4 linked regions of the Homo sapiens genome follow. The protein of the gene in region 4 interacts with the protein of the main gene of each other region in a biochemical or structural test. Each region holds a gene or a part of one and is shown on either strand. Other genes may lie near its edges.

The links.
Region 1: the proteins of SESN2 (region 4) and RNF186 form a complex in vitro, tested with the Homo sapiens proteins (one study listed by BioGRID).
Region 2: the proteins of SESN2 (region 4) and NPRL3 form a complex in vitro, tested with the Homo sapiens proteins (one study listed by BioGRID).
Region 3: the proteins of SESN2 (region 4) and WDR59 form a complex in vitro, tested with the Homo sapiens proteins (one study listed by BioGRID).

The regions. Positions count from the first base shown.
Region 1 is NC_000001.11:19,813,529-19,819,829, forward strand, and holds RNF186 (E3 ubiquitin-protein ligase RNF186), read right to left. Parts: upstream 1,756-6,301; 5' UTR 1,574-1,755; coding exon 890-1,573; 3' UTR 501-889; downstream 1-500. UniProt on the Homo sapiens protein: E3 ubiquitin protein ligase that is part of an apoptotic signaling pathway activated by endoplasmic reticulum stress.
Region 2 is NC_000016.10:93,644-101,355, forward strand, and holds part of NPRL3 (GATOR1 complex protein NPRL3), read right to left. Parts: intron 6,867-7,712; coding exon 6,729-6,866; intron 4,659-6,728; coding exon 4,502-4,658; intron 1-4,501. UniProt on the Homo sapiens protein: As a component of the GATOR1 complex functions as an inhibitor of the amino acid-sensing branch of the mTORC1 pathway.
Region 3 is NC_000016.10:74,981,926-74,990,429, forward strand, and holds the start of WDR59 (GATOR2 complex protein WDR59), read right to left. Parts: upstream 3,199-8,504; 5' UTR 3,093-3,198; coding exon 3,039-3,092; intron 1-3,038. UniProt on the Homo sapiens protein: As a component of the GATOR2 complex, functions as an activator of the amino acid-sensing branch of the mTORC1 signaling pathway. The GATOR2 complex indirectly activates mTORC1 through the inhibition of the GATOR1 subcomplex.
Region 4 is NC_000001.11:28,254,794-28,262,875, reverse strand, and holds the start of SESN2 (sestrin-2), read right to left. Parts: upstream 3,359-8,082; 5' UTR 3,029-3,358; coding exon 2,939-3,028; intron 1-2,938. UniProt on the Homo sapiens protein: Functions as an intracellular leucine sensor that negatively regulates the mTORC1 signaling pathway through the GATOR complex. In absence of leucine, binds the GATOR subcomplex GATOR2 and prevents mTORC1 signaling.

The sequences.
Region 1 (6,301 bases), 8.4 Mb from region 4:
GCAATAACAAAGACGGTAACATCCATAAAGATCTAGTTCTACCGTGTGGGACTGTGCAATAGATGGGCAGCTGGCCCCACTGTATGTGGACTGCAGTCCTTGTAACCCCGAGATTTGCTGCTAAGTCAGGGCCTAGTGGCACGGAGTGGGGAACTCCTAGTGAGGATACTGGGAGCAATTCCCAAACCCTGCCCTCTCCACCCCTCCCCATCTCTGCCAGCTAAATGTGGGACTCCCCCTGCAGCTTCAGAAACACCATCCCTTCACACACATTTTGTCTCCCCAACCCTAGGGTCAACTCCATGGGAGACCTAAACAACCAGGACACTTGCCGAGGCTAGGCTGGGCATGAGATGCTCAGTGTTAGAGGAAGCGCAGTGGGACCTCCCCGTGGACTCCAAGCTCCCAGGAGGGAAAATGTGTAACAAAGGGAAATGTGAACCAACTGCTGCCCCAAACCCAAAAAAACAAAGGAAAACAAGAAAACAAAACCAGCTACATAAATTGCAAAAAGAATGGAATTCCAGTTCTATTCTACAATGGCATCAATACTGCAATACTTTCATCAAGTTATATAAAGAAAAACCAAGAACATTGGAATAAGAGGAACAGGAGCTTCCCCCATCTTGTCATGTTCAAGTAGTTTGTGTCTGCTCCCCTAGCCACCAACAGTTTTAGCTATGCTATCCCAAGGGCAAGTGCAAGCCTGTCATCCAAGCGTGTAATTCTTGACCCAGGCTGGCCATCTCGGTTGTGGCTTGCAAGTCCCGCTGGCATGTGATTTCCCAAAGGAGCCAGTCTTAGTCCGTAACCCCTTACCCTGTTCATTGTGGAAGTCCGGGGGCCCAAGGGCAGAAAGGGCTGCAGGGATAGCCTCATCAGAGGGCACTCAGGCAATGGAAGAGATGTGGCTGTGTTTCTGCTCTCTGCAGAAGAGAGTCCTGGAGGAGGGCCAGCAGCTGCCCCGGGTGCTGGGGAGACAGCAGAAGAGGGTGGACATCAGCAGGGCCAGGGCGATGATGAAGGTGAGCACCCATCGTAAGACACCCGGGTAGATGAAGGGCCCGATGAGGATAATGAGCAAGGCCAGCAGGAGTAGGTGCGCGGCCAGGCGCCGGGCTGCCACGTGGTTTGCACTTACTTCATCCTGTCCATCCTCTCCCACCAAGCTGGGGTGTCCTGCTGCCAAGTCAGCAGGATCCACCAGCCCCTGAGGACAGAGCGATACCTCTGTGCATGGCTGGGCCAGCTGCCCCACCACCGCCTCATGGTCGCGCAGGCTGCAGATGAGGCCCCCGGGGACGGCGGTGACCTTGCGGCACAGCGGGCAGGTGATGGACCAGGTGTTGTCCTGCACGCACAGCAGGAGCTTCAGGCAGATGGCGCAGAAGGCATGCTGGCAGGCCAGCAGCTTGGGCAACCGGGGACAGCTGTAGGGCTCCCGGCACACCAGACACTCCAGGTCACATTCTGTGGAGCCAGAATGACCCCCAGCAGGGGCCACAGCGGTGGTGGTTGTGGTGGCTCCTGCGGAGATGGGCTGGGACTGTTGCAGGGTCTTGGTGCAGGCCATTCTGGGCACAGGGACCGGTGGGACACTGTCGCTCAGCACCTGGGCATTGGCAGAGAGTGTCAGCTGGCGCCGCTGGGACTTGGATGGAATCTGCCCCTCCTTTTCACTCTGGCCAGGTGCCTGTTGACAACAGCTGTCTGACACTCCTCTCTCCCAGAGCTGCCCAGCTTGTTTCTTGGCTTACGTCGTCCCTTCAGTTATTATTATTTATTTTCTCAAAACCTAGGGTTAATCAGTAACTTGCGGGTCTGGAGACTTTGAATTGCCTGATAGGAGGGCAAAGTGGGCAAGGGTCTAGTGAATCAGGACTTTCCTGTTGGGGCCAGGTACCTGGTGGGTGCCCACAGAACTGTGGCTCAAGCTTTAGGAGGCAGCAGAATCCAACTCTCTCACCCCCACTTCCCAGGTCCCTGAACCTTTTATTAATTTTTTTTATTTAACTTTTTTTTTTTTTTTTGAGACGGAGTCTCGTTCTCTCAGGTTGGAGTGCAGTGGCCCGATCTTGGCTCACTGGCATCTACAAATCTGCACAATAAACAGACAGCCCTATGAGTCGGACATAGGTGGATTGGTGGACACTGCTTTCTCAGACACAAACTTTTGGATGTCAGGATGAGTGGAAAAAAGTTTGTTTGCACTTGGAGCACATTTACAGGCAGGTGGCCTTGGAAAGAGGAGGGGAGAGGTAAGAAAAGTGAGTGGAAGGAGGACAAAGCCCAACCCAACGCAGAAAAACAAAACCACATACAGCGCACAGGTGTTTGGCACCTGCTACTGTATTCATTTCCTTAGAGCCACAGCTGTTGTATTCACAGTTACGGGTGTATGAACTTCCCATCGGTGCCCTGCTGCACACTTCACATGCCTAATCACAGGTGTCCTGTTTTGTGCTAGGCATGCTGCGTATCCAGTAGTACTAAGAACAGCTGCCATTTATTTGGGCCTACTCTAAGCCAAGCCCTGTGCCCGGGGTCCCCAGCCCCCATTTCCCGGAACCCTGATACAGCCTTGTAGGGAAGGCTGGGAAACAAGGGCAGGGTGTGGTCAGGGTAGGCTGCTGGCTGCCTGCCAAGGGGCCTTCCATGGAGCAGGACCTTGTGGAATCTACCAGCGTCCAAGGTCTGGTTGAATCAATTTCATTGGTTCATTTGGACACAACTGGCCCCAGCCGGGTGGCGTAGGCTAAGAGGACTCATGTGAGACAGGCAGATATTAGTAACACAGCAGTTAGGAAAACGTGATTTCCTTACTTTGCCCTCAAGGGCAAATGGCGGGGTGGCATGTGCACTCCCTCAAACAAATGTTTCATTCAGGCCACTCTGAACTCAGAAGCCCGTGTGAAGGATCCTTTGGTGCTCATGTCACCTGCCAAGGGCCACACAGAGTCCTGTGCCTCTGATTCAGCTCTTTCCCTTACCCCAGTAGCTGGCACTGCAGGCCACCCTCTGTGTCCTGGAGTCACCAGCCCCAAAGGGGCTCCCTCCCTTGTGGGATCGGTAACTCCCACCTCCCCACTCCCCCTGGGCCCTCTATCTCTGAAATCCAATACTCTCACCATCCCATCCCATTTCTTCTCAACCTGTAGCTAGACCATCAGTTACCTCTGTGAAAGGAAAATAAATCGTGGGGCCCCAAAATCACTAAGCCACAAGGGAAAGTCAAGCTGGAAACTGCTTAGGGCCAGCCTGCCTCCCATTCTATTCAAAGTCACCTCTCTGCTCACTGAGACAAATGCATATCTGATTGCCTCCTTTGGAGATGCTAATCAGAAACTCAAAAGAATGTAACCATTCTTATCCACCTGTGACCTGGAAGCCCCTTCCCCACTTCAGGTCTTCCTGCCTTTGCTTCAAGTTGCTCCACCTTTTCAGATGGAACCAATGTTCATTTTACATATGTTGATTGATGTCTCATGTCCCTCTAAAACGTATAAAACCAAGCTGTGCTCTGTCCACCTTGGGCACATGTCATCAGGACCTCCTGAGGCTGTGTCACGGACATGTGTCCTCAACCTTGGCAAAATAAACTTTCTAAATTAACTGAGACCTGTCTCAGATACTAAGGTATAGATACACATCTATATCACGTTTTCCCCCAGATCAAGCTGAAGGTGGCCTTGGATCTAGGCATGTTTTTTCCCCCATGCCTAGCATTCTTTCCCCTTTTTTGGGTAACAGTTCTCTGTTTTCACTTTGGGCAACCACTGCTTCCCACCGTCATTCTGTGCTCACGGAGAGGGTGATGTCTGGCTCCAGCTCTCTGGAAGTGGGGCCCTGATACAATTCAGGACAGGCCAGTTAGCATGCTCTGCTCTGCTAGCTGCAGCCATTGGTTTGAGCGTAGGCATATAATCGAAGCCAAGCCAATGAGATTCAATTCTGAGACTTCTGTTGGAGCCCTTGAGAAGTTTCTCTTTGTGCTGGGTTTCTAAGTTAGAGGATGGAACCCTGGGGCTGCCAGGACCACAGTGTGCAGAGAACCTGCTCAAGAGTAAGGTCAGCACAAAAGAAAAATGAGAAAAGAATCAGACAAAGGCCTGATGATGTTATTTGAACACCTGAAGCAGGACACCTAGCATTGGATTTTTTCAAGGATATTAACCTATAAAATCTACCCTGATTTTTATTCTTAAGTCAGTTCAAATTGAACTTCTGTCCCTTGCAAGTGAAAGACCTCTATGTAACACAGCAATGGATGAAGAAAAGAAGCCTTTACTTGCTCTCTGACAAAGGGTCAGGCATTGATGAGACAACCAGACTTTGTACACGGACAAGAGTGACCGAATGCCTGTGTGTTACCATGCTAGAAGAGATTCTGTGTTTTCTCTGCTTGGACTTGCATTGCATAATGTTATTTTCTGTTTGTGAGACCCTAGGATGGATTAGGGATGAGAGGAGAAAAATGTGTTGAGCCACATTCATTTATAATAAGAATAGAAAATCAGGTGGGCCACACAGTGATGTTGGCTTGGCCAGTGTCCCTCTCACTTTTTTTTGAGATAGAGTCTCGCTCTGTCTTGCCCAGGCTGGAGTGCGACCTCTGCCTCCCGGGCTCAAGCGATTCTCTTGTCTCAGCCTCCTGAGTAGCTGGGACTACAGGCGTGTGCCACCACACCCGGCTAATATTGTATTTTTAGTGGAGATGGGCTTTCACTATGTTGGCCAGATCGGTCTCAAACTCCTGACCTCAGGTGATTCACCTGCCTCAGCCTCCCAAAATGCTAGGATTACAGGCATGAGCCGCTTCACCCAGCCGGCCAGTGCCTCTCTCTCTAGCCAGCTTAATGGGAAATCAAATTGTCAGAAGGTAGCTGAGTGAGGTTGAAATCAGACCAAGGGAAGTTATTTGGGGTTAGAGCCTAAAAAATAACCTTTTAACATCATTGGGCAACCACCGTTAAGAAAACATATTGGCTGGAACAACCCAAGTATTACAGAAATAAAGTAGAATGTGAAAGTTCATCTTACTGCAACCCCTGAGAAATGACCACTGTTAACAGAGCATTCCTTCCTGTTGTCCTCCTCCTACCATCTTGGCTTAGGAACAACTTTGTTTCTCAAAAGTGCCTTGCCTTAACTATCACCAGCACTGACTATAGCTGGAAATCTGGCTCCTGTCACTTTACCAGCTATGTGACCTTGGGCAAGAATTTTAACTTCACTGCAGTTCAGTTTTAAAATTTGATAAAATGGAGGCCGGGCACAGTGACTCAAGCCTGTAATCCCAGCACTTTGGGAAGCAGAGGTGGGTGGATCGCTTGAGCTCAGGAGTTCGAGACCGGCCTGGGCAATGAGGTGCAACCCTATCTCTACTAAAAATACAAAAAATAGCTGGGCCTGGTGGTGCATACCTGTAGCCCCAGCTACTTGGGAGGCCGAGGCAGGAGGATAGCTTGAGCCTGGGAGGTCGCAGTTGCGTGAGCCAAGATCGTGCCACTGCACTCCAGCCTGGGTGACAGAGTGACACTCTGTATTTAAAAAAAAGTAAATAAAATAAAATAAAACAAAATGGAGACGTTAACACTTGAGGAAATTATGGATTATTTAAGCCCTCCACCCCTGACTACAACCTGCTCACAGGAGGCTTAGTAATTTATGTACTTTGGGTTGTAACTGACCTAGGTGAAATTGATCTCTTCCAGGGACATGAGATAAGACACTTTGGTGACTGATTCGGCCAATGCTTCTTGAAGAGGAGTGAATATGGGCAGAGTCTGAGGTGGAGCCTGAAGCAGATCTACCCCAGGGGAATTCAAAAGTGTCTCCGGAGACTTAAAATGTTAAATTCATCTAGGTTTCACATTCTTCTCCATGTTCTATTTGTGCTTACTGCAACATTAGAATCCCGAAGCATGCACGAATCCTTCCAAATCTCCAAATAAAACATATTTGTTTGTTTTAATTGCTGTACAAATATGAACTCATTAATCTTGAGTAAAGCTTTTTTTTCTTTTTTCATTTGAAATGCAGTTTCTTCCATCTTATGGCTTCTCACAGCCCTGGGGTCATACGCACTCCATCGTGAGAAACACAGTCTCATGTTGGGGTGAAATTTCAAGCCTAGCTGCAGGCTGGGGAGCCGGAGCCAGTCCAGTTGAGGAAGATCATGTTGGAAATCACATGTGCAAGGAACCACACACCCATGTACCTTTGCAAAAACATGTCTGATCTGAATTTTAGGCCTCCCGTCAAGTCAGAAAGGAGTCAGGTGGCAGCACTGTTCTGAGAT
Region 2 (7,712 bases), on a different chromosome or scaffold from region 4:
AACCTCTTGCCTCCCAGGTTCAAGCGATTCTCCTGCCTCAGCCTCCTGAGTAGCTGGGATTACAGGCACATGCCACCACGCCCAGCTAATTTTTGTATTTTTAGTAGAGACAGGGTTTCACCATGTTGGCCAGGATGGTCTCGATCTGACCTCGTGATCCACCCACCTTGGCCTTCCAAAGTGCTGGGATTACAGGCATGAGCCACCGCACCCGGCCACAATGGCCTTTTTGTCACTGCTCCCTGTGCTGTTTGGTGGCACTGTTTTCCCATCCTATGCTGTCTTGACTCCCACTGAAGAATGGTGGTCTCAGGCCACAAGCATGGGAATGTCTGGGGTGCTGGGAACACAGTGCTGGCCCAGCTGGGCAGGGGGCTTAGCTGGATGTCCTGGCAGGGGCACAGCCCTCTTATACCCCCTAAAACTCCAGCATGGCCTTGCCCGATGATGGGTGTGGAGTCACTCAGCATGCCACCCCTACATACCCAAAGGCCCCAGGTCTGCCCCATGTGCCCCGACTCCCACAGAGACCCCCCTCCCAGCTTTGCTCTTGTGGACCCTTGAACATCAGGAAACACAAACACAACCCAAACCCCTTCCAGAGGAAAGCTCAGGCCTGAGGTCTGAGAGCACAGCACCCCAGCACTTCACGAAAAGGTGTGTGAAATCCTAAGCTCTCGCACTTCTGCCTCTGCATCAGCCCAGGACACCACTCCACCCTCTTGGCGGGTAGGCCTCTGTGGAGGTGAGTCACCCCTGCCTGGACACCGTGCTGCCCTGCTGCTGAGGACACTTATACCTCAGCTCAGAAAACAGGGCCTCCAGACTGAGTGAGTGGCTCATGCCTGTAGTCCCAGCATTTTGGGAGGGCAAGGCAGGAGGATCGCCTGAACCTCGGAGTTCGAGACCAACCTGGGCAATATAGTGAGACCCTCATCTCTGCCAAAAATTTTTATTTAATTAGCCAGGCACTGCGGCACATGCCTGTAGTCCCAGCTACTTGGAGGCTGAGACAGGAGGATTGCTTGCACCTGGGAGGTGGGGGTTGCAGTGAGCCAAGATTGTGCGAGTAGTGCCCCCAATGGCTCCGCCAACCCCGACATGGCAGGTTTCAGCTCCATCACCGCCCTGTTCCCTCACCCCACGTGCCACTCGCATGTCTCTCTCAAAAAGACACCCCCACTTTCCCCCAGCTCTGCTCAGCATAGTGGTCTCCACCTCCTGCCTCTCCCTGCAGCAGCCTCTCCAAGATGCTGTCCATTCTGGAAATTGAAAATCCAAAATCAGTACTTAAGGGCAAGCATAAGGTGCCAGCAGGACCAGGCTCCCTCTGGAAGCTCCAGAAGAGAATTCGTCCTGCCTCTTCAACGGCCAGTGTCTCTTGGCTTGCGGTCACGTCACTCCACTCTGTCTCTGTGGCCACATCGCTGCCTCTTTTTATCAGATCTTCCTCTGCCTCCCTCTGATAAGGGCCTTAGAGATTACATTTAGAGCTCAACAGGATGATCTTCCCATCTCAAGATCTTCTACTTAGTAACATCTCCAAAGTCCCACATGAGTTCACATTCATAGATTTTGGGGATTAGGATGTGTATATCTGTGGGGGCCATTATTCAGCCAATCACAACGAATATACAGCACGATCCTAATTTTCATAATACAAAATAAAATGTTTGTGTGTGTATATATATATATATATATATATATACACACACACACACACACACACACACACACACACAATAAAATGTATATATACAGATAAAAAACCTGGAGGGATCTAGGTTACCTGTGGGATATGGGACTGTGGGAACTTTCTGTGTCTATAATTTGTGTAGTGTTTGAAGTCTTGTAACATACTAATTTTATCATGACACACCCAAAATTTACTTGTAGATTCTCTCTGGATTGATATAAACATGAAGAATTTTATTTTATTTTATTTTTTGAGACTGGGTCTTGCTCTGTTGCCCAGACTGCAGTGTGTAAAATCACAATTCACTGCAGCCTCGAACACCAGGGCTCAAGTGATCCTCCCACCTCAGCCTCCTGAGTAGCTGGGACCATGGGCACACACCACCATGCCCAGCTAATTATTTAATTTTCTGTAAAGACAGGGTCTTCCTATGTTGCCTAGGCTGGTCGTGACCTCCTGGGCTTAGGCAATCCTCCTGCCTCATCCTCCCAAAGTGCTGGGATTACAGGCATGAGCCACTGCACCCAGCCACATGAGGGACTTTAAACTATCTGGTGACATTCACACCTGAGGCAGGTGCTCCCCAGGGGGCTATCTCCGGAAACAGAGTGACCCACCAGGGCTGGGCCCCAGGGGCTTCCGCACCGCCACACCAGCAGCAACGCCCTGCTGACCTGCAGCAGGGACAGCAGGGAAGGGGTACAGACAGAAGAAAACAATGACAAACAGCCTTCCCTCTCCCCAGTCAAGGCCACGGCAGGGAAGTGAAGGGGACATCAAAAGGAGACCAAAGCTTTGTCCAAGGAGACTCTGAGAGCAAGGGTGAGAGGCACACTGTCCACACAAACTCCTGCCAGACAACCTCAGAAGAGGGCATCAAAGCTTTGTCCAAGGAGACTCTGACAGCAAGGATGAGAGGCACAGTGTCCAGCACAAACTCCTGCCAGACAGCCTCAGGAAAGCCAGGCCCAGCTCCTTTCAAAAGCTCAACACAGGACCAGTGAACAGCCACAGGCATTTACCATGTGGTCGGTGCTCATCAGGACACGGAGGGTCACTGCCTCCCTCACTCTGCAGGGTTGTATGGAGTGGTGAGTTCTTTTAAAATTCTCTGTCTCCTGAATGCTATGAAGGTGGGCAGGACATGGTGTTTACTGAGTCCTGTCCAGCCCATGAAGTCCAAAGGCACAGCTGGGCATGGTGGCTCATGCCTGTAATACCAGCCCTTTAGGAGGCCAAGGTGCGATGATCACTTGAGCCCAGGAGTATGAGGCCAGCCAGGGCAACATAGGGAAACCCCGTCTCTACCAAAAAAAAAAAAAAAAAAAAAATATTAGCCAGGCGCACACCTGTAGTCCCAGCTACTTGGGAGGATGCTTGAGCCTGGGTGGATCATGATGGCACCACCACATGCCAGCCTGGGAGACAGAGCAAGAACCTGTCTCAGAAAAGAAAAAAGAAATACAAGGGCACAATTTGGTAAGTGCTCTCACAGAGGATAGATAAAGGGTCCTGAGATACAGAGGCGGGAGACTTACTCTCAAAGACAGAATCCAAAAAGGCTGCTTTCGGGGAAAAGTGGCCTGAGAGTCAGGCCTTGTTGGACAAGTTCCCCTAACGTGCTAAGCAGAGACCTGTTTCACAGGCCAAAAGAGCATGGAAGCTCAGCCAGAGGGACCCAGGCGGGCCCACCTCACGCCTGTGTTCCTCGGCAGCCTCTGCTGCCCCCTGGTGGCCATGCTGTGCACACCGCCACCAGACGAGGGCGCCACCCACAGGCACCACCTGCTCCCACCCTCAGGCAGTATTTCAATGGTCCCGTGGCTCTGGGCCACGCCCACATGACTAGCAGCCACAGCTGATCCCATGGCCTGTTGGCCACCCCATCAGCAGCCCCTGCTTCTGATTTCTCCCCGTGCTTTTTTTTTTTTTGGAAACAGAGTCGCCCAGGCTGGAGTACAGTGGCACAATCTCAGCTAACTGCAACCTCTGCCTCCCAGGCTCAATTGATCCTCACACCTCATACCCCCAAGTAGCTGGGACTACAGGTGCACGCCACCACACCCAGCTATTTTTTTTTTTTTTTTTTTTGTATTTTTTGTAGAGACGGGGTTTTGCCATGTTGCTCAGGCTGGTCTCAAAGTCCTGGGCTAGGATGACAGGCATGAGCCACCGTGCCCAGCCTTGCCTGCGCTTTTCCTCCCACACTCCAACCAGATCCGCAGACGAGGCTGAGGGGCCCTCCATCTAATCAGAAAGGGCAGCCCTCTGCATGGACAGGCCCATAAGCATGTGGCTCAGCAAGGACGTGGCATCTTGTACAGAGTGCACAGGCCAACACATGTGCACACACAGGGGCGTAAGGCCACCAGGTTAGGTCTCTGTTCTGCACATGGGAGGGCCCCGCATCCAAGCTTCCTGCCCTTAGTTCCCGTATGTTGTTCATGCACCACTGTGAGACCCCCATGGCCCTGCCCGCTGCTGCCCTGCCCACCCCCTAGCTCTGGTGCCTCAACCTCCAGGACTGCAAGCACCCCAGTCCTTTCTCTCACAGACTCGCCTTACCTCTCTGAGACAGAAGAACAAGTCAGTCCCGTGGCTCACTCACAAAGCCAGCCCTGAACCCAGGTCTGACTCAGATGCCAAAACCTCCAGCCATCCCAGGGACTGGCCCCACCCCATGGTGGGCTGTGCCGCGGCTCTCAGCTGGACACAGCCCCTGTGGATGTACTGTGGCAGGCGGCCTGCCTTTCCTGATGCCCCAGCACCGCCACATGCCACCCATCTGGGCCTCCAGAGCTATACCTGCAGCAAGGCCAGGTCCGCATCTTGGGCTAGCTGCTGCAGGTTCTTCACAGCAGATGTGGTCTTGATCACCCGCACTAGGGCAGGGGAGCAGTCAATAGGAAGCTCACCCAGCAAGGACTTCTCATCACTGAGCAGCAGCAGGGCATGGTAGGGGCTGCAAAACAATCACCTGTCACGGAACACACGAAGTGCAGGAACCCTGCACCGGGTATGCACCAGGTCCTGCACCAGGTATGCACCGGGTATGCACCAGGTCCTGCACCAGGTATGCACCGGGTATGCACCAGGTATGCACCTGGGACTCAAACACACGGAACATACGAAGTGCAGGGAACCCTGCACCAGGTATGCACCAGGTCCTGCACGAGGTCCTGCACCGGGTGTGCATCAGGTATGCACCTGGGACACAAACAGGCAGCTGGAGCCTCCTGGCCCTTAACTGCGGAGAGAAGGGCCAAGAGCGGGATTTGAGAAAAGGGCAGTGGTCTGTTTGGAGGCCTTCACAAAATCTGCCAAGGACTGGCTCATGCCTATAATCCCGGCACTCTGGGAGGCCAAGGCAGGCAGGTCACGTGAGGTCAGGAGTTCGAGGCCAGCCTGGCCAACATGGTGAAACCCCATCTCTACTAAAAATAAAAAAATTATCCGGGTGTGGTTGCACCCACCTGGGGTCCCAGCTACTCGGCAGGCTGAGGCAGGAGAATCACTTGAGCCTGGGAGGCGGAGCTTGCAGTGAGCCGAGATTGCGCCATTGCACTCCAGCCTGGCGACAGAGTGAGACTCTGTCTCAAAAACAACAAAAACAAAACCTGCAAGGATTATGTCACCCTCGGAAAAAAACACGACAAAAGTGGGGAAGGCTCGAAGACTGGACTCTGTATCCCACCTCAGAGACGCCCAGCAAACATCTGTTGATTGAAGACATGAATGAATCTTTCCTAAGGAAATTGTCCCAAATATGGGAAAAGCAAAATCCTCCTCACAGACTAGGGACCAAAGTACATTAAAATATGCTTAGCTAGGATTGAAAGCAAAGAGCACGGACTGGGGAGGGTGGAACTAGGCAGCGCTTTGCTTTCTGTCATTTCCAAATTTTCAGCAATGTGCCCAGATATATTTTTATAATTAAAAAATGTTCAAGGTATTGGGGGACTTGGGAACAGGTGGTGCCAGAAGACTGGGCTCAGTTCTTTCCTTGCAGAAAATCAATTAAATTGCCAGGGCATGGTGGCTAACACCTGTAACCCAGCACTTTGGCAGGCCGAGGCGGGTGGATCACGAGGTCAGGAGTTCAAGACGAGCCTGGCCAACATGGTGAAACCCCATCTCTACTAAAAATACAAAAATTAGCCAGGTGTAGTGGTGTGCACCCATAATCCCAGCTACTCAGGGGGCTGAGGCAGGAGAATCGCTTGAACCCGGGAGACAGAGGCTTCACTGAGTGGAGACTGTGCCACTGCACTTGAGCCCCGAGCAAGACTACATCTCAAAAAAAAAAAAAAAAAAGTCAATTAAATTAAGAAAGTATATTTTGGGAGGCTGAGATGAGCGATGAGTGGATCACCTGAGGTCAGGAGTTCGAGACCAGTCTGGCCAACATGGTGAAACCCTGTCTCTACTAAAAGTACCAAAAAAATTAGCCAGGCATGGCAGTGGGCGCCTGTAATCCCAACTACTCGGGAGCCTGAGGCAGGAGAATCACTTGAACTTGGGAGGTGGACGTAGTGGTGAGCCGGGATCGCACTACTGAAATCCAGCCTGGGCGATAAGATCAAAACTCTGTCTCTCTCTCACACACACACACACCCCCGCAAAAAAAAAAAAAAAAAAGAAAAAGAAAAAAAAAAGAAAAAGAAAATAACTGAGATCCCATGAGTGCTGACTGAAATGCAAAAGACTGGGGTAGGGCAACACCATTAAGATGAAGTCCCTCCAGCCCTCCGGCCTCCCCAAGGACACTCAGCCCCACATCCAGGCTGCCCTGCCCAAGCCTAAGGTGGTGCCAGAAGGGCCCAGGAGAAACCTGGGATTGGTCATTTCTGGACACAACTGGATACAAAATTATGTGTTTTAACTTCTATAAACGGCAGAGCCCCACCTGCAAGCTTCCGCAGTGGGAAGAAGAAAAAGAGAAATTTTGGAACAAAGTAAGTGGTAAAATCTCAGGCAGAAGCTAAAGGGAAGGGCCCTGGCAGGGAGTGAGCACGTGGGGCTGGGCACTTACCGGATGGCTTTCAGGCTCCGTTCGATGGCCTCTGGGGGGATCAGACTGGAGGCCGCATAGTGGATCTTGTGGGGCAGGCAGAAGCTCACCTCCAGCCAGCTGTTGATGTGAAGCCGAACTACGCCCGACGTGCACAGGCTGCAGAGAGTGGGCGCTGTTACCCGTTCACATAAACTTTCTAACCATGCACACAGATCAGAAAACACCCTGCTCAATGGTGCTGATTCCCCTGCTGCTTAGGGGAAACTGCAGGTGGAGACCCGGGCAGGAGAGCATCTCTTAAGATCACATTATGTTTAAGAAAAGAAAATATGGGGGCCGGGCACGGTGGCTCATGCCTGTAATCCCAGCACTTTGGGAGGCCAAGGTGGGCGGATCACGAGGTCAGCAGTTCGAGACCAGCCTGGCTAATAACACGGTGAAACCCCGTCTCTACTAAAAATACAAAAATTAGCCAGGTGTGGTGGCGGGCGCCTGTAGTCCCAGCTACTCGGGAGGCTGAGGCAGGAGAATCACTTGAACCCAGGAGGTGGAGGTTGCAGTGAGCTAACATCACGCCACTGCACTCCAGCCTGGGCAACAAGGCAAGACTCTGTCTCAAAAAAAAAAAAAAAAAAAAGGAAGAAGAAGAAGAAAGAAAAAGAGAAACATATTTCTGGCTAGCCCTGGAATCTGTAGTCCAACCAGACTGCCAGGGCTTGAGAGAAGCCGTACCCTGTCCTGGGGACTCAGTGCACTAGAGGCACTCTAACTCAGGCCCCTGCCCGTCCAGACCCCTGGCAGACACCCAACACCCAGAGTACATCCTCCCTGTGAATGGGCCTGCCCTGCACACCTCATGAAGACCCGTCACAGGTGCACGTCCAGGCAGAACAGTGGCTGTCTCAGAGGGCGAGGAGGGCAGGGAAGGAATGCCAAGTCCCCCAGAGTGTTCCAGTGGTGAGAAGCACACAGTGCCCACCTCCCTGCAGTCTGCAGATGCCC
Region 3 (8,504 bases), on a different chromosome or scaffold from region 4:
GATTACAGGCGTGAGCCACCACGCCTGGCCATATATGTATATTTTTTAGGCCAGGCACGGTGGCTCACGCCTGTAATCCCAGCACTTTGGGAAGCTGCAGCAGGAAAATCACTTGAACCTCGGAGTTCAAGACCACCTGGGCAAGATACAGAGACTCCTATCCCTATTTAAAAAAAAAATGCAAAATGAAAGAAATTTAAATATTTTAATTAAAAATTTTTTAATAAAATTATTATTTAAAAGATGTGGAGTGTTTTGAAAAGTTTATTGCTCCTATTCATAAAGGCATTATGAAGAGTTTTAACTTTGTCTTTCTACATTAACAAAATAGTTAATAAAATGGGTTCCTGCCCCTTCCAATCATCACCAGAATCACCCACAAAACCATGCTAATTCACATAAAGAGGAAGCCTTGTAAATAGGAAAATCAGAACAAAAAAACAGAAACTCCCACAAGGCAGTAAAATTACCCAATTTACTTTGTTCTCTTACTGTGACAACTGCTGTTGAGGTTTAATTATTTGCTACGACTTCATAGCATCCTAATATATGTGTCAGCACCCTCTCTGCAGGTCTCTTCAATTACATCTCTATAAACAGGCAGGGGTGAGACTACCTGGGTTTCTGTGAAAATTAAAGGGTTTGCAGATTAGTAGCTTCCAAATTAGCAGGCTTAGAGGCATGATACATGATTCTATTCTGTCCTAGTTGCCAGTAAAAGCAATTAACAAGAAAGAAAACAGGAATATGGTTCCTTTTCCAAGGAGTCTGGCGCCTCCCTAGGGAGAGCAGGTCTCACGGAGACTCTGTGCTGACAGTACTTGGGGGTCCTTAATCCAAATGCTACTGCTCAAATTCTCAGTAGAGGCTACTGATCAGAGGGCACCACAGAGCAAAATGGTGGGTAGCTCCTCCACTCACTCATTCTCCGGCAAAAGACAGGATGGGGTTTTGGAAAGAAGAAACCACATCACCCATTCATACTTATCCAGATCTCCCTCAGTATGAATCACCTGTGCATGGTATAGTGTATACCTGAAGGGAGCTCAGTAAATCCTTGTTGAATAAATGAGTGAATAAAAGTGTGGCACACAGAAGGTATTTGATAAATATTAGTTGAATAAATGAAAAGAATGGCCAGGCACAGTCGCTCACACCTGTAATCCCAATATTTTGGGAGGCCAAAGTGGGAGAATCGCCTGAGGCCAGGGGTTCAAGACCAGCCTGGGCAACACAAAGAGACTCTGTCTCTACAAAAAATAATAGGCCAGGTGTAGTGGCTCACACCTGTAATCCCAGCACTTTAGGAGGCCAAGGCAGATGGATCACTTGAGGCCAGGAGTTCAAGACCAGCCTGGCCAACAGAGCGAAACCCCGTCTCTACAAAAAATACAAAACTTAGCCAGGCATGGTGGCACGTGCCTGTAATCCCAGCTACTCGGGAGGCTGAGGCACAAGAATCGTTTGAACCTGGGAGGCAGAGGTTGCAGTGAACCAAGATCATGCCACTACACTACAGTCTGGGTCATAGAGTGAGACTCTGTCTCAAAAAAAAAGGTAAATAAATTTAAAATTGAAGAGAATCACCAAGACACTGTCCTAGGTGCTGGGGAAGAGGGGATGTATATGACCGGTTCAGAGCTACCCACTATGAGTAAAGTAGTCCAATGAGCTAAACAAGGGCTCTGGGGTAGGATCCAGCATCCAAATCCCAATGCTGTGTGTGCCACACATCCTCAACATACAACCACATAAAATCTTCACTCGAGGCTGTGCTCAGTGAATCACACCTGTAATCCCAACACTTTGGGACGCTGAGGCAGGGGGTTCGCTTGAGCCCAGGAGTTCCATACCAGCCTGGACAACATAGGGAGACCCCGTCTCTACAAAAAAAAATGAAAAATTTAGTCGGGCGTGTTGGCATGCGCCTGTAGTCTCAGCTACTGGGGAGGCTGAGGTGGGAGGATAGCTTGAGCCCAGGAGGTCGAAGCTGAACTGAGCGGTGATTCACGCCTCTGCACTCAAGCCTGGGTGACAGAGCCAGACCCTGTCTCAAATGAAGTAAAATAGGCCAGGCACGGTGGCCCACGCCTGTAATCCCAGCACTTTGGGAGGCTGAGGTGGGTGGATCACCTGAGGTCAGGAGTTCAAGACCAGCCTGACCAACAAGGTGAAACCCCGTCTCTACTAAAAATACAAAAATTAGCCGGGCGTGGTGGTGCGCACCTGTAATCCCAGCTACTTGGGAGGCTGAGGCAGGAGAATTGCTTGAATCCCGGAGGCGGAGGTTGCAGTGAGCCAAGATGGCACCACTGCACTCCAGCCTGGGCAACAGAGTGACTCTCCATCTCAAAAAAAATAAATTAAATTAAATTAAATAGAAAATTAAAAAATAAAATCTTTAAGCCAATCTTGTAAGTACGACCATCTCCCTTCTACAGGTGAGAAAACTGACGTGTACGGAGTGATGACAGGGTAGGGGCTGCGGGATTCGAACTCGGGCAACACGTGCAGTGTCACTCCTATCCACTACACGGTATTTTCCAGTATGATGGCATTAAGAACCACTTAACCGCGTAGACGCTGCAACAGGCACTTTGCAAACAGTGTTTCATCGAATTCACCCCAACAGGGTTACGTCCACGCAGCTGAGACTTAGAAAAGTCCCGCGACTTGCCTTAAGTCGCCACACGCGGCTAGGGCCTCGGGAAGCCGTCACGCCCTCGCTCCGTACCCTGATTGTGGGAAGCCTCCCCTCAGCACTCACGATGCGCAGTCTCTGCCTCAGTGTCACAAGGCGGACCCCACTCCCCTACCCGCGTAGGGAGCCCCGAAACTCCGTCCATGCTCGCCCCGATTGCCCCCGATGGTCGTCTTCCCTCCCCCGACGGGGCCTAAGAGGTCGGCTAAGCCCCGCCCACCTCCTCAGTACGGGGCCTAGGGTCTCCCCGTAGCCCCCCGGGACGGAAGCAGCCGCGTGGGGGAGGGGAAGCGGGGAGGACGCATGCCCAGAGGGCTCCACTCGGCCTCTAGCTCACCTGGGAGTCACGGAACTCTACAACCACGTTTTCGCTGCTCCATCGCGCCGCCATCTCCCCCGCCCGGCCGCCGCGGCCCCAGGACGGCGCCCTCCCACCCCGCCGTCCCCAGTATCCCGGGACCGTGCGCCCCACACAGCCAGAGAATCAGCCCCGACACGCCCCGTGCCCTGGTTGCTCCTGAGCTCAAGCCATTGGTTGACCCAAGCATAGGCTCCGCCCCTTCTTCCTGGGTCCTCCAATTGCTACACCGCGCCTGCAACAAACAGGCACGCCCTCGCTCACTTCCGTCACTTGGTTTGAGTCACCCACGCTCCTCGCGATTGCGGGCACACCCCCTGCCGCGAGCTCTGCCGGGAGTTGTAGTCCAAGCTCGAGCAAGCGTGGGTGACCTGGGAAGGGCTCGCAGGTTTGGGTTTGGGTGAGGTGAGGTGCCTGTTGTCCTGACTAGCTCCTCGCTGGAGTCCCCAGCATTCGTCCAGACCCAGTCTCAAATCAAAATCAACGTTCGGGGCGGGTGCGGTGACTCACGCCTGTAATCCTAGCGCTTTGGGAGGCCGAAGTCAGGAGTTCGAGACCAGCCTAAACAACATAGTGAAACCCCGTCTCTACTAAAAATACAAAAATTAGCCGGGTGGCGGGCGCCTGTAATCCCAGCTACTTGGGAGGCTGGGGCAGGAGAATCGCTTGAACCCGGGAGGCGGAGATTGCAGTGAGCCGAGATCACGCCATTATACTCCAGCCTGGGTGACAAGAGCGAGACTCCGTCTCGGAAAAAAAAAGAAAAAAGAAAAATCAAAGCTCGTGCAAACCGAAGATACCTCTTCTCCTGATGCCTATCCCATCGAGATATTTAAAAGTCTGAATGTGCAATTTATTGTTTCATACAATACAGCAGCGCCTCCCGTAACAATGAAGGTAGACTTAAATGTGAGAATCCAGCTGTTTTCTTGATCTGTAGTCCAATGCTCTACCTGTGAGCTATACCCCCTCCTGCAATCCAGCTGCTTTCTTTCCTTTTCTTTTTTTTTTTTTTTTTTTTTTTTTGAGACAGAGTCTTGCTCAGTCGCCCAGGCTGGAGTGCAGTGGCGCGATCTCGGCTCACTGCAAGATCCGCCTCCTGGCTTCACGCCATTCTCTTGACTCAGCCTCCGGAGTAGCTGGGACTACAGGCGCCCGCCACTACGCCCGGCTAATTTTTTTGTATTTTTAGTAGAGACGGGGTTTCACCGTTTTAGCCAGGATGGTCTCGATCTTCTGACCTCGTGATCTGCCCGTCTCGGCCTCCCAAAGTGCTGGGATTACAGGCGTGAGCCACCGCGCCCGGCCGCTGTTTTCTGATAAACCAAACATTAAAACAGATTTGCCAGAATTTTTTGTTGTTTTTTTTTTTTTTTGAAAATATTGTTCTTTTTCATTTTAAAATGTATTCATGTGAAGGGCCTTAATGTTTAAATGAAATAATGAATATATTTTTTAAATTCTGTATACTACATATAAAAGTTTTTGGGGGCCGGACGCAGTGGCTCATGCCTGTAATCCCAGCACTTTGGGAGGCTGACGTGGACGGATGGCTTGAGCCCAGAAGGAGGCTGCAGTAAGCTAGGATCACATTACTGTACTCCAGCCTGGGCGACAGAGCAAGACCTTGTCAAAAAAAAAAAAAAAGTTTTTTTGGGATTTTCAGTAATTTTTAACAGCAGTGTAAAGGGATTCCAAGATCAAAAAGTTTGAGAACCACTGTACTAACATGGTGGGTGGTGATTAAGTTTCCTTTTCAGTCCCACACTCTTAAATGTTGATTTAACTGGTTTAGCTTCAGTTTCCCTATAGAAGGGAAAAATGGCTTACCTCATTGGATTGTTGTAAGGAACTAAGCACAGGGCCTGGGATGTAGAAAAGCTCAACTATAAACTATTAATTCAGTTCTAGAAGCCAGGAAATCAATAAAAATAAAATAAAATAAACTGTTATTGTTGTTGTTAATATTATCACTATTTGTATGTGCAAGTCATTGTATGAATAGAGGTAAGAAAGTGTGGTCTCTTCCCTCCTGGAGTATTGGCTATAAGGGGGAAGACAGACTTGTTGACAGATTACGGTGACTAACTTGTTGCCTGGACCGTTTCATGTTTTATTTTTATTTTTTTGGAGAAAGGGTCTCGTTCTGTCACTGAGGCTGGAGTGCAGTGGTGTGAGCATAGCTCACCACAGCCTCCAACTCCTGGGCCCAAGCAATCCTCCTGCCTCAGCCTCCCAAGTAACTGGGACTACAGGCATGTGCTACTATGCCCAGCTATTTTTTTTTTTTTTTTTTTTTACTTTTTGTAGAGATGGTCTCGTTGTGTTGCCCAGGGTGGTTTCAAAGTAGTGGCTTCAAGCAAGTGATCCTCCGGCCTCAGCCTCTGGATTAGCTGGGACCATAGGTGTGAGCCACCATGCCTGATCCCTTTTCATATTCTAGCACTGCATCACCAAAAAGTCTTGCATCCCAAGAAACCCATAAGTTCCAGGCAAACTGGGACAACTGGTTACTCTACAACAGGAATGTGCTTGGCAGAATGACTTGTATATTATAATAGATTTGCAAGCAATATGGCAGGAGAGAAAAGCCTAAATAGGCGACCCGAAATGGCATCTTGAAATCTTGAAGAATATGACATCTGAGCTTTGTTTTGTTTTGTTTTGTTTTGTTTTGTTTTGTTTTGAGACGGAGTCTCCTTCTGTCGCCCAGGCTGGAGTGCAGTGGTGGGTGGATCACTGCAAGATCCGCCTCCCGGGTTCACGCCATTCTCCTGCCTCAGCTCCCAAGTAGCTGGGACTACAGGCGCACGCTGCCACATCCGGCTAATTTTTTGTATTTTTAGTAGAGATGGGGTTTTACCGTGTTAGCCAGGATGGTCTTGATCTCCTGACCTCGTGATCTGCCCACCTCGGCCTCCCAAAGTGCTGGGATTACAGGCGTGAGCCACTGCATCCGGCCCGACATCTGAGCTTTTCAGTATAATGTTAAGATATTGATACAGTACACTATGAAAAAAAAAAAAACACTTCACCATTAAGAGTGTGAGCAAAGGCTGGACGTGTTTGCTCACACCTGTTATTTGACAGAATCATTTAAGTCCAGGAGTTCGAGACCAGCCTGGACAACATGGCAAGACCCCATCTCTAAAAAAAAAAAAATTAAAATTAGCCAGGCGTGGTGGCATGCATCTGTAGTCCCAACTACATGGGAAGGTGAGGTGAGAGGACTGCTTGAGTCTGGGAGGTTGAGGCTGCAAAAAGCTATGATCGCGCCACTGTGCTCCAGCCTGGGTGACAGAACAAAACCCTGTCTCTAAAAAAAAATTAAAATTAAAGTCATTTCATTCCTGACTGGCTACCTCATCCATTATCTTCATGTTTCTCGAATTTGTGATACAAAGAACAACGTATAGCCAATCAGTAGCTTATGTTATTTTGAGGTAAATTCTTAGTAAAGACTTTAGGAACTGCCCCTTCTTTTTCTTTAGAAACCCACCGTAGGCCAGGTGCGGTGGCTCACGCCTGTAATCCAGCACTTTGGGAGGCCAAGGAGGGCGGATCACGAGGTCAGGAGATCAAGACCATCCTGGCTAACATGGTGAAACCCCGTCTCTACTAAAAATACAAAAAATTAGCCGGGCGTGGTGGCGGGCGCCTGTAGTCCCAGCTACTAGGGAGGCTGAGGCAGGAGAATGGCGTGAACCCAGGAGGCGGAGCTTGCAGTGAGCCGAGATGGCACCACTGCACTCCAGCCTGGGCGACACAGAGAAACTCCGTCTCAAAAAAAAATAAATACATACATACATAAAATTAAAAAATTAAAAAATTAGCCAGGCATGGTGGCAGGCGCCTGTAATCCCAGCTACTCAGGAGGCTGAGGCCGGGAGAATCGCTTGAACCCGGGAGACGGAGTTTGCAGTGAGCGGAGATAGGGTCACTGCTCTCCAGCCTGGGCAACAGAGTGAGAATCTGTCTCAAAAAAAAAAAAAGAAAGCCCTGCTTAGGCGTTTGAGTTTTACTTTGGACATACATACAAATAGAGACATAGCTCTTCTAAAGCTCTCTGTCTTTGTGTACATAGCTTGTTAATTTGCTTCCCACCAAAATGAGTGGGATCTAAGATCATCGTGCCTGAGCATTTCTGCAACCCTCCCCCACTCCCACCTCTTTAGTTCATATTTATCTAGTTCTCAAAATCTGCCTGTCATGGTTCATAGGCAAAGATAGTACTTTGGCTTTCAAGTCCTTGGTGCACTCTGTTCTCCCAATGTTTTTTTTTTCTTAAGTAGGAAAAAGGTTCAGCAGAATTTTGGGGAGAGGGAGCAGGAGAACCTTTCCAATTGCCTCCTCGGATCCTGCTTTGGAGTCTCCCACCCATATGTCATGACACTGTCATGAAGTAGTGGGGACTCTGCCAGGTGCAGTGGCTCACGCCTGTAATCCCAACACTTTAGGAGGCCAAGGCGGGCGGATTACCTGAGGTCAGGAGTTTGAGACCAGCCTGGCCAACATGGAGAAACCCCATCTCTACTAAAAATACAAAAATAGCCAGGTGTGGGGGCAGGTGCCCTGTAATCCCAACTACTCCGGAGGCTGAGGCAGGAGAATCGCTTGAACCCGGGAGGCAGAGGTTGCAGTGAGCCAAGATCAAGTCACTGCACTCCAGCCCAGGCAACGGAGCAAGACTCCGTCTCAGAAAAAAAAAAAAAAAAAAAAAAAAAGAAAGGAAAGAAAAGAAGAAAGGAAGGAAGGAAGAGAAAGAAAGGAAGGAAGGAAGGAGAGAGAGAAAGAGTGGGGACTCTGGAGCAACATCCAGAGCTCTCTGGCTGCTTCTTCATTGCTATTCACCCCTGAGATCCCCATGTAAGTGTTCTTTCCATGTTGACCAAAAAAATCAAACAAAATCAAAATCAAACTTTTTGTATGTATTTTGGAGACTTTTTGTATGTATTTGGAGACTATATTTCCAGACTCAGGCTGGAGTGCAGTGGCAATGGTGCCATCTCGGTTTACTGCAGCCTCAACTTCCCAGGCTTAAGCAATCCTCCCACCTCAGCCTCTCAAGTAGCTGGGACCACAGGTGCATACCACCACACCTGGCTAATTTTTGTATTTTTTATAGAGATGGGGTTTGGCCGTGTTGCCCAGGCTGGTCTCAAACTACTGAGCTCAAGTGATCCACTCACCTTAGCCTCCCAAATTACTGCTCTGTAAAATATTTAAAGAGGTTTATTCTGAGCCCATATGCGTGCCATATGAGTGACCATGGCCTGGGGGACAGTCTCAAGAGATCCTGAGAAAGTGTGCCCAAGGCGGTCAGGGTATACATTGGTTTTGTACATTTTAGGGAGACAGGAATTTTAGGTAAAATCATAAGTCAATACATGGAAGGTATACATTGATTCAGCCTAAAGAAGCAAGATACCTTGGAGGGGGTGGTTA
Region 4 (8,082 bases):
GCTCACTGCAACCTCTGCCTCCCAGGTTCAAGCAATTCTCCTACCTCAGCCTCCGGAGTAGCTGGGAGTACAGGCGTGTGCCACCACGCAGGGTTAATTTTTTGTATTTTTAGTAGAGACGGGGTTTCACCGTATTAGCCAGAATGGTCTCAATCTCCTGACCTTGTGATCCACCTACCTCGGCCTCCCAAAGTGCTTGGATTACAGGTGCGAGCCACCGCGCCCAGCCTGGTTTTTTTTTTTTTTTTTTTTTTGAGACAGACTCTTGCTCTGTCACCCAGGCTGGAGTGCAGTGGCATGATCACAGTTCACTGCAACCTCCGCCTCCCAGGCTCAAGCAATCCTCCCACCTCAGCCTTCGAAGTAGCTGGCGCACACCACCACGCCTGGCTAACTTTTGTATATTTTGTAGAGACAGGGTTTCAGGCTGGTTTTGAACTCCTGGGCTCAAGCAATCCATCTGCCTCGGCCTCCCAAAGTGTTAGTATTACAGGCATGAGCCACTGCATCTGGCCGAGAAAGTTATTCGGGAGCCCAATACTACCAGTACTAGAGTGAAGCCCTTGGAACTTTCTGAAGATACACACATCTGAAGGCAATGAGCTCCTGAAAGGGAGTGTGTGGTGAAGTGACAGGGAGTTAAGGGAGCTGCACGCCTGGGTCTTCTCTTGGACCTCGGGCACCTGACTCAAAGATCAGCACCCTGCTGTCTTCTAAGGATGCCACCACTCAAAGCAGAAACCGTCCGAAGGTCCTCTTTTCTCGAGAGAGGAATACACAGAAATCTCCCAGATAGGCCAGGTGCGGTGGCTCATGCCGGTAATCTCAGCACTTTGGGAGGCCAAGGCAGGTGGATCACCTGAGGTTAGGAGTTCAAGATCAGCCTGGCCAACATGCTGAAACTCTGTTTCTACTGAAAATACAAAAATTAGCTGGGCATGGTGGCGGGTGCCTGTAATCCCAACTACTAGGGAGGCTGAGGCAGGAGAATTGCTTGAACCTGGGAGATGGAGGTTGCAGTGAGCTGAGATCGTGCCACTGCACTCCAGCCTGGGCAACAGAGCAAGACTCCATCTCAAAAAAAAAAAAAAAAAAAGATAAGAAAAAGAAACCTCCCAGATAGCAGCAGTTTTCTCCACTGAGGAAACATGGCTTCTGTGTAAAGATCCCTCCCTCAAAGCCTTTTCTCCCTAGACCAGGCACTGACCCAGAGAGGGGTGTACAGTGTCTGATCTCAGGAACAGGCTCAGGCACCCCCTTGTGAGACACTCTGGAGAAAGCTGTGCGTGCCATGGCCACGTTCTGATAATAGCAAGCAAGTATCACGCAGTTACTATGTTCCAGTCACAGTGCTTCAGCTTTTGCTTGTATTCTGAGTTAATTCTCCCAACAATCCCTTAGAGATACTGTAAAATCCCCATGGGAAGAAACCACAGATCAGAGAAGTGATTACTGGCTAAGCCACACACTGCAAGTTAGCAGGAGGGCTGGGACATGAACCCAGCACTCTTGCTCTCTAGTGTTCAGGTGTTCTCAATAGTAACATTATTTCCATCTTTCCAAAGAAGTCACACAGCTGAGAAGCTGCAGGAGAAGAGCCATTCCTCCACATGGCGCTCCTAAATCACGGCAGAGAAGGGTAAGCAAGCTAACAAAAACCAGGGCACAAACTATACACCGACGGAGGTAGGATCCCCAGAAACCACGTTACTAAGAGAAAAGCAGGGATTTTCCTGGGGTCATAGCACTCCACCAAATCCCAGGTCCAGAATACAACTTCCACCACACTCTAGGCCTGTAAACTAAAGCAACTAGAAGCTCCTAGTGCCGTGCAATCTCCGAAATCATAAGGCCAAAGAACAAGATATTCAGTGGGGTTAATGAAGAAAGCCTCTTTCTGAGCCCATCGTGGGCCTCAATGTTCTTCCTGTAAAATGGGGCTATAGCGTAGCTTGTATTGCTGGTTTAGTCCTGAGGACTTAGGTTAAAGGCGAAAAAAACTCAGAGCCTGGTATCTAGTAGGTGCATAATAAATGATAAGATGTCCATTATCGCTGCTGCTGGTAGTGGTGGGGGAGTGCGAACTGTCAGTCTGGTTAGGTCCAGCCTAATTCCCGGTCTCCCTGCAAAGCCCCTGCGGGCTATGCCGGGATGCGAATGCGGGGGGGTGGAGGGGAGCGGCGCGAAGGGAGGGTGGGGGAGGAATTTCTGGAAAACAAACTTCTGGGCCTTCAGACCACTTACTTAGCAGGGCGCAGCCTAACCCGCGCTTGGCTTCGGAAGCCGCGACCAGGGTTGTCCCCTCTCCCCCCAGCTTTGGCTGCCGCCGCCGCGTACCGGGCGGCCCGCCAAGCCCCCAGAGCCCCTGCGCTCTCCCTCCAAAGCAGGAGTGCGGTGGACATAGGATGAGGTCGACTTTCACTGGCCAGTCCCAGGTGCCTACGCCCCGCGCTGGGGGACAGGAGCCGGGAGGCACCCCAGGAAGGGTCCTCTGCCCGCCGGCCCCCGCGAAGAGGAAGGGACTCCGCGGAAGGGGGCGGGGAGGAGGAGTGGTCTGGCCGCTCCGGCCGGGATTTGCCTGGACTTGAAGACGCTCAGGAGCCCAAAGCTCGGAGAGCCTCCAGAAGGCTTCTCCCTCATTGGCCAGGAGTCCGAGGGAGCCGAGGAAGGATCCGCGGCCCTGGGGTGGGGCGGTGAGGGAGAGGGGGAGAGGGAGGGAGGAGGGGGAGAGGGAGGGGGAGAAGGAGGGAGAGGGGAGACAGAGTGGGGGAGGGGTGCCGAGGGCCGCGGCTGCCAGTTGATGCAACCCGGGTCCCGGGTTACGCGCTCGGCTTTCCCTCCCCGAGCCCAGGACACACCGACTCAGCTCCGGACAGCCTGAGGCTCAGACGCGGTTCGGGGTTCCAGGGAAGAGGGGCGTCGCGCGGCCGCCGCTTACCTCTCCGGGGCCCGAGTCGCCGACGCCGCCCGGGGCGAACCGCAGGTAGTCCTTGAGCTCTGCGCGGCACTCGGAGTCCGCCACGATCATGGTGCGCGCCAGGACCCGGTCGCGGCTCGCCGACGACCCGTGCACCCGAGTGGGTTTCGGAGGGACGCCCGAATGAAGCCGGGACTGGGCGCCGCCGGGGAGCTTCTAGAACCCCGGGGCGTCTCTCGGGGCTCCAGAACGCTCCGGAATCCGAGAACGGCCGCTTTGGTGCTGGACTCTTCCCCCAGTCGGGCTTCGGGAACGGCGAACGGCCTCGGGGGCCTGGGAAGGGCCGCAGCGCAGGGGTTTTCACGGCCTCGGAAGTCCGCAGGGGCCAGGGCTGCTCCCGGACCCAGCGCTCCTCAGCATCCCCGCCGCGGAACTGCCAGCGCTCGCCGGGCTCTGACACCAGCAGTTCAGCCCGCTGCGGTCCCCGGGGGAGGGCGGGGACACAAAAGCCCGGCGGTCCAGCCAATCAGAGGTCTGTTTCCCCGGGGAGGCGGGGGAAACTCCGCCCCCTGGAGTCACGGGCTCCGCCAATCAGCACCGGGGAGCGCCCGGAATTCTGGGAGTTGTAGTCCGCCTCGGGTGAATGCTGCAAACTTTTGCAAGACGGTTTAGTCAGATCCCTGGCAACACCAGACGGCAGTGACAGCCCTAAGAGTCATTAGGGTTGCGTGATGAAAAGGGACTTCACTGGGCTAGGCCAAACAGCCGAGTGTGAAATCTCCTAAATGAATTCTTCATCTTTTCAGTTCCTGGAGGGACTGGCTAGGGTTAAGAGAGGTTTGGCTCGCGTCCTATCCGGTGCTGCTAATTATAGAACTGAACCCCAGATATTTAGAGGTCAGAGGGCACAACCCTGCTCCCCCTGGCCTCGGGGAAGCTCCAAAGATGCGAGACACAGGGAATTCACCTTATTTGTGGAGCCTCAGGAAAAGCCTTCATTCCTTGAAATGTCATTGGTAACTTCGTGTGGAACCTCAATCCCTATTGCTGGAAGTTTTCTTCCTTCTGCTACCCGTCCTGGCTTCCACCCCTCCCACCCTCCTCGAAACTTTGTAACAAGGTGTTCTGCTGGATCTTTGCTCACCTCTCCCTCTGGCCTTCTCTGACTCCTCTTTCACCACCCACTTCCTAAAACGTGGGTGCTTCCCCAGTTTGTTTTTGCCCCTCTTCCCTCCAGACACTCTCCCTGATCTCATTCACTTCCTGGCCTTCAACTCGCCTCTTGCCAGAAAGTTGCCTCTACCAACACCTCAGCACCTCCAAGCTAAATTCATTTTCTATTCATTTCAAACGGAGCCTCTTCCTTCACAGTTTTCCTTCAGAGCTCCTTTTTTTGTTTCCATTTTAAAGTTATTGTTTATTCTAGACAGGGAATCCTGCCAGGGGTGAGGGTGGATAAGACCCCCAAGTCCCCCTCTGAGACTTCTAAGTCTAAGCTTACAATTCCAAAGATGAAACCGACTTGGTTTCCTGCCTCCAGATTCTTGGGAAAAAGAGATTAATCTCACCCTCCCCTGAGCTCCCAAGGCACTTGAGCTGGATCTCTTTTCACATGTATCACATTCTACCTAGTTTTTTTTGTTTTTTGTTTTTTTGTTTTCTGTTTTTTTGTTTTTGTTTTTTGTTTTTTAGTAAATAGAGACAGGGTCTCAATATGTTGCCCAGGCTGGTCTCAAACTCCTGAGCTCAAGCGATTCTCTCACCTCAGCCTCCCAAAGTGCTAGGATTATAGGCATGAGCCACCATGTCCAGCCACATTCTGCCTTGTATTGTAATTTTCTATGTACATGTTTTATCTGACCCTTTTTTCTTTTTATTAGTATTGTTTTTTAGAGATGGGGTCTAGCTCTGTCACCCAGACTGGAGTACAGTGGCATGATCATAGCACGCTGCAGCTTCAAATTCCTGGGCTCAAGCGATATTCCCTCCTCAGCCCCCCAAATCAATCACTGGGGTTACAGGTGTGCACCACTGAGTCTGGCTTATCTGATCTTTTTAATTGTAAACTCCTTGAGGGCAGGGTCAACATCTTTTTTTTTTTTTTTTTTTTTTTTTTAAACAGAGTCGCACTCTGTCTCCCAGGCTGGAGTGCAGTGGCCCGATCTTGGCTCACTGCAACCTCTGCCTCCCAGGTTCAAGCAATTCTCCTGCCTCAGCCTCCTGAGTAGCTGGGATTACAGGCAAGTGCCACCACACCCGGCTAATTTTTGTATTTTTAGTGGAGACAGGGTTTCACCATGTTGATCAGGCTGGTCTCGAACTCCTGACCTTGTGCTCTGCCCGCCTCAGCCTCCCAAAGTGCTGGCATTATAGGCATGAGCCACCGCGCCTGGCTGGCAGGGTCTACATCTTGACATCCATCTCCTGCTCTATGTCACCTAGCAAAATGTCCTGACAATCATATGCCCTTGGTCACGGAATCTTCCTTTGCATCAACTTCCTCTCTAAACTACCCTGTGTCAGCTTCAGCTTTCATTTAAAAAATTTACTATGTGGCCAGGCGTGGTGGCTCACGCCTGTAATCCCAGCACTTTGGGAGGCCGAGGTGGGCGGATCACGAGGTCAGATCAAGACCATCCTGGCTAACATGGTGAAACCCCGTCTCTACTAAAAATACAAAAAATTAGCCAGGCGTGGTGGCGGGTGCCTGTAGTCCCAGCTACTTGGGAGGCTGAGGCAGGAGAATGGCGTGAACCCAGGAGGCAGAGCTTGCAGTGAGCCGAGATCGTGCCACTGCACTCTAGCCTGGGTGACAGAGTGAGATTCTGTCTCAAAAAAAAAAAAAAATTTACTATGTAATGTCAAAGTCCAGATCAAAAGGCTTCACTGGTATTTCATCAGCTACAGAATTAAGATCAAACTCCTTGGGTGGGCATGGTGGCTCACGCCTGTGATCCCAGCACTTTGGGAGGCAAAGGCAGGCAGATCACCTGAGGTCAGGAGTTCAAGATCATCCTGGCCAACATCGTGAAACCCCATCTCTACTAAATATACAAAAATTAGCCAAGCGTGGTGGTGCACGCCTGTAGTCCCAACTACTCGAAAAGCTGAGGCAGGAGAATCGCTTGAACCCGGGAGGCAGAGGTTGCAGTGAGCTGAGATCGTGCCACTGCACGATCTGGGTGTCAGAGCGAAACCCTGTCTCAAAAAAAAAAAAAAAAAAAATCAAACTCCTATCTTAACATTCAAGGTTTGCCAAGATGCACCTAATTTACCCTCCCATTCTTACCACCTGCAACATCCATGTTTCTTGTTTGGCCTTCAAATCTTTCTTTCAGTACTCTTCTTGCAAATCTCTACCCATTGAAATAGTATCCATCATTCAATGCCTTCATTCCTGTTTGTGGCCTGAAGCAAGACTTTAAATGACACCTCCTCCAAAAAGCTCAGCTGAAAGTAATCTCACCCAGTCCTCAACATCTTCAACACATTCTTTTTATCTCTTTCTACCACTGATCTCCAAACTTGGTGTATGCTTGATATCATGTGTATATATCTCACCACTTCCCTCCAACTGATGATAAAAATCTCTCATTGACCACGTGTACAAAGTGAGAAAACTTGAGCTCAGAAAGGTAAAATTGGCCAGGCTTGGTGGCTAACATCTGTAATCCCAGCATCTGGGGAGGCCAAAAGGGAGGATCCCTTGAGCCCAAGAGTTCGAGACCAGCCTGGTCAACATGGAGAAACCCTGTATTCACAAAAACTACAAAAATCAGCAGGGTGTGGTGGCATGTACCTATAATCTCATGTACTTGGGAGGCTGGCCAACATGGTAAAATCCCATCTCTACCAAAAACATAAAAATTAGCCGGGTGTGGTGCGAGAGCCTGTAATCCCAGCTACTCGGCAGGCTGAGGCAAGGGAATAGCTTGAACCTGGGAGATGGAGGTTGCAGATTGTGCCACTGAATCAAAAATAAAAATAAAAATAAAAACAAAAATTGCTTATCAGGGTCACACAGTATCTTCTTTTGACTGCACAAGGCTGTGTTAGAGCACTTTTTTTTTGTTTGTTTGTTTTTTGTGAGACGAAGTGTCCTTCTTGTTGCCCAGGTTGGAGTGCAATGGTGTGATTTCGGCTCACGGCAACCTCCGTCTCCTAGGTGCAAGCAATTCTCCTGCCTCTGCCTCCCGAGTAGCACCACCACGCCCGGCTAATTTTTTATTTTTAGTAGAGATGGGGTTTCTCCATGTTTGTTAGGCTGGTCTTGGACTCCCGACCTCAGGTGATCCACCAGCCTCAGCCTCCCAAAGTGCTGGGATTATAGGTGTGAGCCACGGTGCCCAGCCGGCTGTGCCAATTTCTTAAAATAAGACAATAATAAAGTTGGCCACAAGGATCCACTCTTCCTTCCATGAAAGATTTCTCTGTAGCATGTGATACTGTTTGGTAACATGTTACCTACAGCAGAACTTCTTTCAAAATTGGAGTCAATCTTCTCAAACCCTGCTGCTGCTTTGTCAACTAAGCTTATGTAATATTCTAAATCCTTTGTTGTCATTTCAACAATGATCATAGCATCTTCACAGGAGTAGATTCCATCTCAAGAAACCACTTTCTTTGCTCAGCCATAAGAAGCAACTCCTTAAAGAAACAAAAAAAGAAAAGTCAGCCTGGGCCAACATGGGGAAACCCCGTCTCTACTAAAAATACAAAAATTGGCCAGGCGCAGTGGCTCACGCCTGTAATCCCAGCTCTTTGGGAGGCTGAGGTGGATGGATCACGAGGACAGAAGTTCAAGACCAGCCTGGCCAAGATGGTGAAACCCCATCTCTACCTAAAATGCAAAAAATTAGCCAGGCATGGTGGTGGGTGCCTGTAATCCCAGCTACTTGGGAGGTTGAGGCAGGAGAATCGCTTGAACCCAAGAGGTGGACGTTGCAGTGAGCTGAGATTGCGCTACTGCACTCCAGCCTGGGAAACAAGAGCGAAACTCCATCTCAAACAAAACAAAACAAAACAAAAGAATAAAGAAAAAAAGAATAAAAAGAAGAAGCAACTCCTCATCCATTCGAGTTTTATCCTGAGATTGCAACAATTCAGTCACATATTCAGGCTTTATTTCTAATTCTACTTCTCTTGTTATTTCTTTTTTTCTTTTT